Linked DNA regions of Homo sapiens: region 2 is linked to region 1. The links come from fine-mapping of genetic effects on gene expression. A gene starts in region 1. The other region holds a variant in brackets. All regions are shown on one strand. Distances are between the middles of the regions.

Region 1 (5,254 bases):
GCCTTCCCCACGGGTAGGGAGGAGATTCAGGGCTTGGCCCCAGCCATTTAGCAGGAGTGGGCGGGGCGCCTGAGGCACGGCGGGGAGGGATCCTTAGGCTCACCCTCGGGCTGGGAGCCTCTGCCAGGCCCGGAATGGTGCCAAAGGCCCATCCCCACTCCCGCCTAGATGCCCAGGTCCAGGCTCTGAGGGCTGAGAGGAGGAGGGCAGCTGTCTGAGCCCACGCACGCCGGGCTTCCCAGAAGCAAACACAGGAAGGGCCGAGGTTGGCCCTGACTCTGCCTGAGCTTCTTGGTGATGTGAGACTTTGTTCCCAAGCCTCTCCAGACTTGGTGAATATAATTTAATCATTACTATTACAGCTTCCAGAGCCACACACTGTGGTATAGACTACTGAATGATACACTAAACTAACATGAATTTGCCAATGAAATGTTTCCGCATTTGGCAACAGAGATAATAAAATAAGACAGCATTCTATCTCTTGCAAGAAAAAGCTTGAGATCAATTTGCCGCCACAGATCATTTAGTGGACAACAAGGACCCAAGAAGATGGAGGGGAGAGATAGAAGCTGCGGGCAGGTGCAAGGAGAGCCTCTCTGAGGGGTGATCCGCCCAGAGCCACACCGGATTGAACAGCCCTTGGGGCAGGGACTCCAGAGGGCAAAGGCTGCCGGGTGAGAGGCAGGAGGAACAGCGCTAGGAAGGTTTGAGGAGGTGCTGCCCCCAGGAGGGAAGTGGGGTGGCTCCCCATGGCTTCTCCCGGGGCTGGCACTGAAGCTGGAGCACAGGATGTGCTGACGGGGGTCCAGAGGCAGAGTCCTTAACTTACTCAGCTTAAGCGTGGCATGAGTCCCAACTGGGAGGGGCCCTGGCAGCATGAAACCCCCACCCCCACTCTCTGCGACGGCCCAGATGGAGGGCAGGAGGAACAGCGGTTCAGCCCTGGCTGGGGCTGCAGGGGCTGGGGTGTGTTACTCACTGGCACGATGGAGAACTGCATGAAGAGGCAGGTAAGTTCTGTGGCGGCCAGCACGTAGGTAAGCAAGATGACCGAGGACCGGCCTAGAGCGCTCATCCTGCCGGGGGACCGGCCCTGGTCCCTGGGAGCCCGAGCTCCCTGCATCCTGGACAGGCGCAGCAGGGAGACCCAGGAGAGATCCAAGCAGGAGGCTGGCGGAGCAGGGGGCAAAAGTCCAGTTGATCCGGGCAGGGGTGCTGAGTCACTGGGTCCCAGGCAGCACCCGCCTGGCCTTGCCTGCAAGAGAGGACAGCACTGCAGGACCCCCTCCCCAGTGGAGCTCTCCTGCTACCTGGACCTTAGAGGACACATCAGGGGGTCCCCCTCCTCCACTTTTGACAGCTCTGGTCTCCAGGCACACAGCCTCCCGGGGAGGGGAGACAGGGACAAGCTGCTCCCCCCGACCCCTGCAGGTGGGCCAGGCTCAGTGCCTGGTTGCCTGACACAGGAATGTGCCATGCCCCACTTTTAGAGGGAGGCAGAGGCTCGGAGTGGTGGCTGAGTCCACCTCAAATCATCAGCGCCTTCTGTGGCCAGAGGGCTGATGTGGGTCCCTGTGCCTGGAGGCCCTCCGTAGGCCCACAGTGGCCCTGTCCCCAACACAGTGCAGCTCTCAGGGAAGGTCTACCTTCCCCTGTGGCCAGCAGCCAGAGCTCCAAGGGGCTTCTGGAATGGTCTTGCGTAGGGGAGACATAGCTCAGCCTTCCAGGCTCCCCAGTAGCTCTGCCTTACCTCCCACAGCGGAGTGCTGTCTGTCCCCACCCTTCCCCGCCCGGCCTCCAACTGGTGGGAACTGGATTTTGCGGCTGCAGAGGACTTCCCCAAATTTTGCCACATTAACAGCTGACTGCACATCTGAGCCCCGAGGTACCGAACCCAGGCTGGTGGGGTAGGGCGGGGAGACCCCTGAGGGTCCGGGAGCTGCGCCTGGCGCCCTCCCCCATCCCGGGATGCAGGGAGGCTGGGGGGAGCAGGGCAGCCGCAGCAGGCACGTCAGGGGCACCTCATTGGGCAGAGGTGCGACGCTGCGCCGGAGTTCGGGGTTCGGGGCTCAGAGGCCGCCCTCTCCGGAGTGTGCTCGAGTACCTGCCTTTGCAGGGGCGGGCTTGGGCACGGGTGCCGGTGGGGTGAGCGCTCCAGGGTGACCTAGACACCGGTCCTTCCGGGATGAGCCCCGGCCCCGCCCTTTCGGGAGATGACTTGCAACAGGGACCGCCCCTCTGGGTCTGAGTTCCAGCCCTCGCGCTTTGCAATCGCCAGTTCCGGGAGCGCCCGTGCCACGGTTTCTGCGCTCTCACTGGCCGAGCCCGCCCCTCCCCTCGAAGGACCCGCCCCTGCCCCGCCCACCAGCGGGCTCGCCCCGTGCCCGGCTTCGCCCGCCCCAGCCCCCTCCAGCTTGAATCCTGCCCGGTGCCCGGGCTGCTGGAGGTGGACACTCTGACCCTCAGGCAGCACCGGTGTCCACTTTGGGCCTGAGGAGGGGCAGTGTGGGCAGGGGATGGGACCGGGAGGTGGAGGGAAGGAGAGAATGGAGGGGAGGCAGGGGCGGGGAGAGAAAAGCGGAGGAATGGTGGTGAGGGGTTAGGGGAAGAAGTCAGGGGAGGTTGTAGAGGGTGTGGTGTAGCCTGGCCCTGCCAAAGGTCTGCACAGAGCCCCAGAAGAGTGACCAGGAGACAGCTCTGGGCCCCTCCTCACTTCCCTCCCCAGACCCGGAGGCTGCTAGGAGCAGTTGAGAGCCCACTTTTCCCCATTTCACCCTGCCTGCCACTTCCCCACCCTTGCAGGGGCCACCAGAGATGCCAGCACACAGGTAAACAAGCCTCATGCCGCCCTCCGCAGCAGGAGCCGCTGGAGCACACACACCCCACGCTGCGCACACTTGGCCCAAGCCCTGCCCTTGGCCTGGGCACCATTCTCCGTGCCCCTGACTGTCACTAAGTAGGGAGATGCTCATTCAGGACTCCTGCCCCACCTCCTCCCCAGGCAAGGGCTGGGCACAGGCTCAAATGTCAAAACCAGTGTCCCCCTGCCATGTGTCAATCATCGCTCCACAGAGCAGAAAACTGCAGGGGTGAGACAGGGTGGGACGGACATCGCAGAGGCGAGCGAGAGCCGGCCAAAGTCCTGGTGGGCAGGGGGGCCAGAGCCAGGTGGCCCAAGGCCGGCTGGCTAAGCCATTCCAAGTCACCGTGGGAGTGGTTCAGCAGCTACCCTTCGTTCAGCAGCTCAGATATGTTGGGCATCAGAAAACAATACCCCAAAATGAAGGCCTCAGAAGCAGCTTCGGAAGAAAAAGTGTTTCTCTGACCTTCTCTTGCTCTCCTGTCTCTCAGTGCCATTTTCCCCGAAGCTGGCCTTAGAAACTGGAATCCATTTTCCCCAGGGCAGGTCATAGAAATCAGAACCCCGCCTTTCCACACAGCCAGACATCAAACCTAAAAATATTGCTCTAACTTTCCCTCCACCTTTGTGTTTAGAAGCTGGCCATAAATTATCTGACCTCTCTTGTTTGACTGTAGGGCATAAGACCCCATTCCAGGAGGGTCCTGCTCCATGCCCAGAAGGAAGGAATGCTGCTCAGAAAGTTCAAGAAATCTAGACCAACAGCCCTCGCTGCGCTTCCCCTTGCGGTCCAGGAGCATTAGTGCAGGTCCCTTGGTTCATCTGTGTTCCCGCATGGATGTCCATACTTTGTTGAGCCTAAGCATCAGAAATGGCAATTTCCCCCATATCTTTTTTTTTTTTTTTTTTTTTTTTTGAGACGGAGTCTTGCTCTGTCACCCAGGCTGAAGTGCAGTGGCGCGATCTCGGCTCGCTGCAAGCTCCGCCTCCCGGGTTCACGCCATTCTCCTGCCTCAGCCTCCCGAGTAGCTGGGACTACAGGCGCCCGCCACAGCCCCCGCTAATTTTTTTGTATTTTTAGTAGAGACGGAGTTTCACCGTGTTAGCCAGGATGGTCTCGATCTCCTGACCTCGTGATCCGCCCCCCCTCGGCCTCCCAAAGTGCTGGGATTACAGGCGTGAGCCACCGCGCCCAGCCTGTTTCCCCCATATCTTTGGGTCTTTGTTCTGAAAACTCCCATTCACACACGTCAATCAATTTGGGGACCAAATGCCTTTTGTCCAATCAATCTGCCCTCTGTGAGGTGGTTTCTTAGCAAGCCCACGGGTGCAGTGTACCGCTCGAGGGGATTCCAGCCCAAAGAGTGCAAACGTGTTTGCATCTGGAGTGCGTGTCCCCAGATCCTCTGCCAAGCTCGTTTTCAAGAATAGTCACCACTGGCCGCCCTGGGGACTTGGGGAGAGTGCAGTCAAGCCGAGAGCCCAGGTCCAGCCAGAGTTTCCTGGAAGGACTGCACAGAAAGGCCGGCTGTGTAAGGTGGGGGTGGGTGACAGGAGTCTCAGAGTGTCTTAGATTTGGGACTCCTGGGGGAGGATGGGCATCCACATGAACCCTTACTCAATGGGGCAGGTGTGAGGGACTGTCCCCAACAGGTTCCAGACGCCTCCTGGGTTCCCTGGGGAGGGCTTAGAGGATGAAGCGGCAGGAGGAGATGGGATGAGTTACCAAACTGCCCAGAGGTGTGCGAGGGAGGCTGAGGGTCCTCTGGCGCTGAGGTGTGGTGGAGATGCTGGAAACTTACCACTGTCTTCCTCCAGGTGAAGCAGGGCCTCAGGTAGCCAGGGAACTGGTTGAGCAGAGGAAATCGGAGAGACCTTTTTTTTTGTCATGAACAGGCTCAGTGTGAATGGGGGAACTTCCTGGTTCTGAGGGAATGTGGGAAAATTGCCCTTTAGGCTGGGTGAAGAAGAAAGCAAGTGGAACCCTGGCACCCCTGGACTTCCTCCTCCAGAGGAAGCGGCTTTGGTTGTGGGCCAGCGAGCCTGTGCGTCCCCAGCCCCAGGGCATTCACCGCTTCAGAGAAGCAAGGCGACAGTTCTGCCGGATGAGAGGATCCAGGCTGACTGGAGGAAGGAAGGGCTTTGGCTCATCTGGGCTCAGGTTTGGGAGAGGTGGCTTCTCAGAGGAGGTGATGCCTCAGCCAGTCTTAAAGGTGAGCACGGATTGTTTGGGTATGGGAAGGGCATCCTGGCTGAGAGAATAGCATAGATAACGGCTTAGAGGTGAGCCCAGGCTTGGAGTGTTCAGGAAGCTGAGCCACTGGAAGGGGCTGGGACCAAGGGTGTACAGTGGGGTGACGGGGCAGAAAGTGAGTCTAGAGAGAGGGGTGA
Region 2 (5,473 bases), 22 kb after region 1:
TAACCAGGCTTTGGTGGAAGAAGTCGAGGCTGAGTGCACCCCTGTGCGCCCCCACTGTCCACCCTACCAGCCCCGAGTTTCAAAGCGCTCCCTCTTAGTAAAAGAGACGTTTATTATTTTAATAGCTGACCTATAAACCTCTGAAAATTATGGCTTACAATGGAAAGGGTGATGTAAAATAGCAAAAACAGAACGGCTAGCAGTATTTTTGCTGGTGCCTTGGGCTGGGAGAAGAAAAGAACTGGTGGACCCTTACGGGGCCCTACGTGACAGTTGCTGACTTCCTCCTCCCACCTCCACCGGGGGCAGGGACAAAGGGGGGCTCAACTTGAGATGGTCGAGATGTATTTAGACATGTAATTAACTGAGCTCCCCCCAGCTGCCTGGAAGGGCTGGGCGGGGAGGGTGATGGGCCTGGCCTCGAGGCCCAGCTGGGGCCAGACTCCGGGAAATGCCCCCGGGACCTGAGAGTGGCAGGTCTCGCTGCTTCGGCTCAGCAACAGGGACCCTCAGCTGACGGTAATGAGGGACCAGACCCATGTAGACCTGGCTTCGGCCTTCCAACCTCTCCCACAGGGGAGAAACCTCCACATTCACCTGTGTGAGGAGGACAAAGCCTTTTCCCTTCTGAGATAAAGGAGGGTGGCAGTGCCTTCTGCCTTGGGCTGGGAGGAGGCTGGACCGGGTGCCTGGCAGGCAGTTAGTGGGTGCACAGCGTAACCTGAGTTAACTGTTTGTGGTGACCGATCTGCTGGGTTGGGGCCTCATCATCCACAGCTGCATCTGCTGCCAGGCCTCCTGCTGCAGCTGGGGCCGGCGGGGCTCCTACCTTGCTTAGCTTCTTGCAGTCCTGGCCCTTGGGCACAGGACATGTGGTTGCCCAGCACCCTCTTGTCACTCAAGGGTAGCTTTCTCAAAAGCAGTGTGAGGCCTTTGTGGGGACGTGAAGGTGAGGCCCAGCGCCATTTCTCAGGAGGAGTTTCTCCCCAGGGCAGGAGCTGGCTGCAGGGATGCACAGGCCACCAGCCTCCATGGGCTGCTAGTCACACGTGGGACTCTGGGCACATGTGACCCAGGCAAGCTAGCCTTTCCTTCTGGGGGGCCTCGGTTTCCCCATCTGGGCTGAGAAACGTCCAGGGTTTTTTCCAGCACTGTGTTCTGTGATTCTCACGTGGGGACAGCCATGGAAATAATACCTGATGGCACTGTTTGCAAAGCTCTCTTCTCACCCATGCTGTTGGGAAAGAGCAGATAGGAGCGTGCGTCCTGGCCCCCAGGCCTCATCCAAGCTGAAAACACAGGCACCGGCTGGCAGCCAGCACACTCATGGGTCTGCCGTGTGGGAGTCACGCTCCAGCTCCACTGGGGATCCACAACCATCATATGAGCGATGACACCAGGACCGCCAGGCACACAGCAATGGCTTTTCTCTGTGCCAGGCATATGCTAAGCAGGATCAGCGTCAACCAGGTCCCACTGTTTTCCTTGTTTGAAGAGGAAACTGAGGCATGGAGTAATCCACCTGAGGTCACACTCCTGACCTTGGCAGGGCAGAGGGATGTTGGGCTGGGGTGCTCTGGGGCCGGGCCTGGAAACCATTGCACTATCCTGTCCCCTGGACTGGGCTGGGAAGACAGGCAGTTGCTCCGTTAACCTACAGACAGTCCAGATGAAAGTGATGAGGGAGAAGGGTGAATGTGTCGGAGCCAGGGGATCAGGGTGAGGCAGGAGAGATAAGGCAGGGGAGGCTGCTGGTGCCAGGGGGCCTTGGTGGGCCTGGCCTGCTGGTGTGTGTGAGGCCGGCACACGGGCGTACATGTGGTTCAGTGTAAGGGTGTCTTTTGGGTGTGCCTGCTGGGCCTCCCCCTTCCCTGCCCTGTCCTACTGGTCTCCTGTACCTCCCCGGGCCTGATGGACTGGTGCCAAAGATTGGATTTTGTCAGCCAGCAGTGGGGAGCCCCGGAGGGACTGAAGCAGGGAGTAGTAGAAGCATCTCAGCTGCTGGGTGAGGAAGGAGGAGCGCCAGCAAGAGGGAAGGGGGTGAGGGGACCAGAAGGACACTGTGGCCATCCAGGCAGAGGGCAGAGGCACTGGGTTGGGTGGACACTCCAAGAGGCTCCAGCATGCCAGCCCCTGTTCCAGGCACCAGAGACTTAGCAATGAATAGAGAGACAGCAGTCCCTGCTGCAGGCGCTTTCTCCACTGGTGACATCAGAAAACCCCTCCAGTGGGCTGTGGTGCATACAAAGGTGGTTGGTGTGGGGGGGTGGGACAGAGCTGAGCCAAGCACCAGCCTAGCCTTTAAAACAGGAGGGGCTAGGAAGCCCCTCCTCCAGCTCCCAGCAGGTGACATAGCAGGTAATGGTGTCTGAAGAGCACTGTTTTATTGTTAGTTATTTTTTGGTTCAATATTATTAACTGAAGTCCATAGGTTACAGGAGGGTCCGTTCTCAGTGCCGTACATTCTACGGGTTTGGACAAATGCTTACTGTCCTGTGTCCACCATTACAGTATCATACAAGGTAGTTTCACTGCCCTAAAAATCCTCTGTGCCCCACCTATTCATCCCTCCCTCCTCCCTAGCTCCTGCAACCACTGATCCTTTTACTGTCTTTGTAGTTTTGCCTTTTCTATAATGTCATAGATGTGAACTCATACAGCATCAGCCTTTTCAGATTGGCTTCTTTGACTTAATAATACTTAAGGTTCTTTCATGTCTTTCCATGACTTGAGCTCATTTCTTTTTAGCACTGAATAATATTCCGCTGACCGGAGGCACCACAGTTTGTTTACCCACTCACCTCCTGAAGGCTTCCAGGTTTGGGCAATTATGAATAAAGCTGCTATCAACATCCACGTGCAAGTTTTTGTGTGGATGCAAGTTTTTGACTCATCTGGGCAAATACCAAGGGGTACAATTGCTGGATGGTGTGTGGCGGATCATATGTGAAGGGTACATTTAGTTTTGTAAGGAGCCACCAAACTATCTTCCAAAGTGGCTGCACCATTTGTGTTCCCACCGCAGCTCCTGTTAAAGCCCAGCGTGGAGAGTTCCTGTTTCTCATCTGTGTACCACACCCACCACCAATTTCAGATGAATTAAAAAACAGAAACCCTACTACAATGTGGACACGGCAAGGACAAGGCATAATTCCAAACGAACACTGATGACCGTGGCTTGATCTCACGGCCCCGGCTGGTTCGGCCTGGCTCGGGGTGAAGAGCCTGGGCCCTTGGCCGTTCTTCATCCAGCTGGCCCTGTAATGAATTGCATGTTGTCCAAATATCTGCCTCCCCAAATGCAGGAAGATTCTGCATTTCCC[G/C]CACGTCAATATCAGACGTGGCCATGTAACTTGCTCTGGGCAGTGAAACGTGACCCACTTGGCATGTACCATTGCCAAATGGAGCCCGTCAAAGCCAGGGTCCTGCCGTTTCATCCCTCTGCTGTGAGACAAATGAGACCTCAGACAGGGGCCGCCCCTTCCAAAAGAGAAAATGGAGTACAACCCCAGCCCTCCAGCGAAGGGACTGTCGTGGTGAGTGAGAGATCCTCCATGCTTGATGTACGCTGCCAAGAGCTTTGGGCCTGTTTGTTATGCAGCATAAGGTAAGCTGACAGAGACAGGTTCCTTGAAGACCCAACTCACTGTTCGAGGTTTATGGGAATGACAGCAAGGGCCTGGTGGCATTTTGAGTTGTTCTGGTTACTTGGACACATGTCCAGAAATGACGCAGAGACTCATCCCTGCAAGCTGTGTTCAGTGTCCTGCTGGTGTTGGTCTAGCTTGTCACATTTGCAGGCTGGAGGTCAGGTGTTTCCAGCTGGTAGTGACGGGTCCTGAGTTCCCTCTTGGTTACCATCTATCCTGCTATCGTGTAGTTTTATGTGAGTGCCTTAACAACTGTCTAGTAAGTCATCTTTTTTTTCTTTGATGAAGGAATAAAATGATTGTGATTTGGGGAAGGGTCAAAGTCTCAGAGATGGAGCTGGCTGCCCACACTCTAGCATCCTGAAGAAATCCTGGCTGGGTGCGGACGCTCATGCCTGTAATCAAAGCACTTTGGGAGGCTGAGGTGGGAGGATCACTTGAGCCCAGGAGTTTGAGACCAGCTTGGGGCAATATAGCAAGACTCCATCTGTAAAAAAATTTTAAAAATTAGCCAGCTTTGGTGGTGTGTGTGCACCTGTGGTCCCAGCTCCCTGGGGGACTGAGATGGAAGGATCACTTGAGCTCGGGAAGCGGAGATTGCAGTGAGCCATGATCAGTTGTGCCACTGTACTCCAGCCTGGGCGACAGTGTGAGCGAGACCCTGTCTCAAAAAAAAAAAAAAAAAAAAAAAGTGGCTGGGCGAGGTGGCTCATTCCTGTACTCCCAGCACTTTGGGAGGCTGAGGCAGTCAGATCACGAGGTCAGGAGATCAAGACCATCCTGGCTAACACGGTGAAACCCCGTCTCTAATAAAAATACAAAAAATTAGCCAGACATGGTGGTACGTGCCTGTAATCCCAGCTACTTGGGAGGCTAAGGCAGGAGAATCGCTTGAACCCGAGAGGCAGAGGTTGCAGTGAGCCAAGATGGCACCACTGCACTCCAGCCTGGGCGACGGAGCAAGACTCCGTCTCAAAAAAAAAAAAAAAATCGCAATTGCTTATTCTGAAAATTAAAAATTGTGTTATTTAAGCCTTGAAGTGGTTGTTTCAGGGGCAGCTGAGATATTGATTATATCACCAAGCTCTGCTCCATGGGCAAGCCCCTTGGGATAAAAAATGAAAATGGCCTCTGATGACCTAGTGGCGCCAGGAAGAAAACGCTCTGATCTTAGCTGTTACTTGAAAGCCCTCAGGGGCAGGACTTTCTTGGCAGGGCTTGCCTGCTCCAGTGTCAGACAGCTGTGTGTACTCACCATTCCCTTCTGCCCCAAATCACAGCCACTACTCTGCTGTTCAACACTGAGGCATAAAGTCGGGTGTGGACAGGCAGCCGGTACCTCCTCTTCTGTTAGCATGATTACACCTGTTCTCATGATCTCCTGCCAAGTAAACAACTATCCCAACACTTTGTGGTTTAAAACAGTGGTTTTAGCCGGGTGCGGTGGCTCACGCCTGTAATCCTAGCACTTTGGGAGGCCGAGGTGGGAGGATTACGAAGTCAGGAAATTGAAACCATCCTGACTAACGTGGTGAAACCCCGTCTCTACCAAAAAAATACAAAAAATCAGCTGGGCGTGGTGGTGGGCGCCTGTAGTCCCAGCTACTCGGGAGGCTGAGGCTGAGAATGGCCTGAACCCAGGAGGCCGGAGCTTGCAGTGAGCCGAGATTGCACCACTGCACTCCAGCCTGGGCGACAGAGCAAGACTCCACCTCAAAAAAACAAAAAAACAAACAAAAAAACCCAGTGGTTTTATTTATACCTATGATTCTATCAGAAATTGGGGAACAGTTGGCAGAATAGCTTGGCTCTGTGTTATGGGA

What was found. PIP is the estimated chance that this variant, and not a neighbour inherited with it, causes the effect.
Region 2: its variant is the best candidate, but not a certain one, in a credible set for the expression of SLC67A1 in prefrontal cortex (BrainSeq, PIP 0.67).

The regions. Positions count from the first base shown.
Region 1 is chr11:2,899,218-2,904,471 of GRCh38, reverse strand. SLC67A1 (solute carrier family 67 member 1) reads right to left here and starts at 2,194. Exons shown (of 11, transcript NM_002555.6): 1 at 2,108-2,194; 2 at 983-1,258. The coding sequence starts at 1,126. SLC67A1-AS (SLC67A1 antisense RNA) reads left to right here and starts at 897. Exons shown (of 3, transcript NR_169305.1): 1 at 897-1,013; 2 at 1,763-1,888. RefSeq lists an enhancer at 506-1,007 and a silencer at 1,933-2,062.
Region 2 is chr11:2,877,102-2,882,574 of GRCh38, reverse strand. No RefSeq gene overlaps it. Among named protein-coding and RNA genes, the nearest start is that of CDKN1C, 5.9 kb to the left of the region's middle. The variant G/C (reference allele first, on the strand shown) is at 3,324.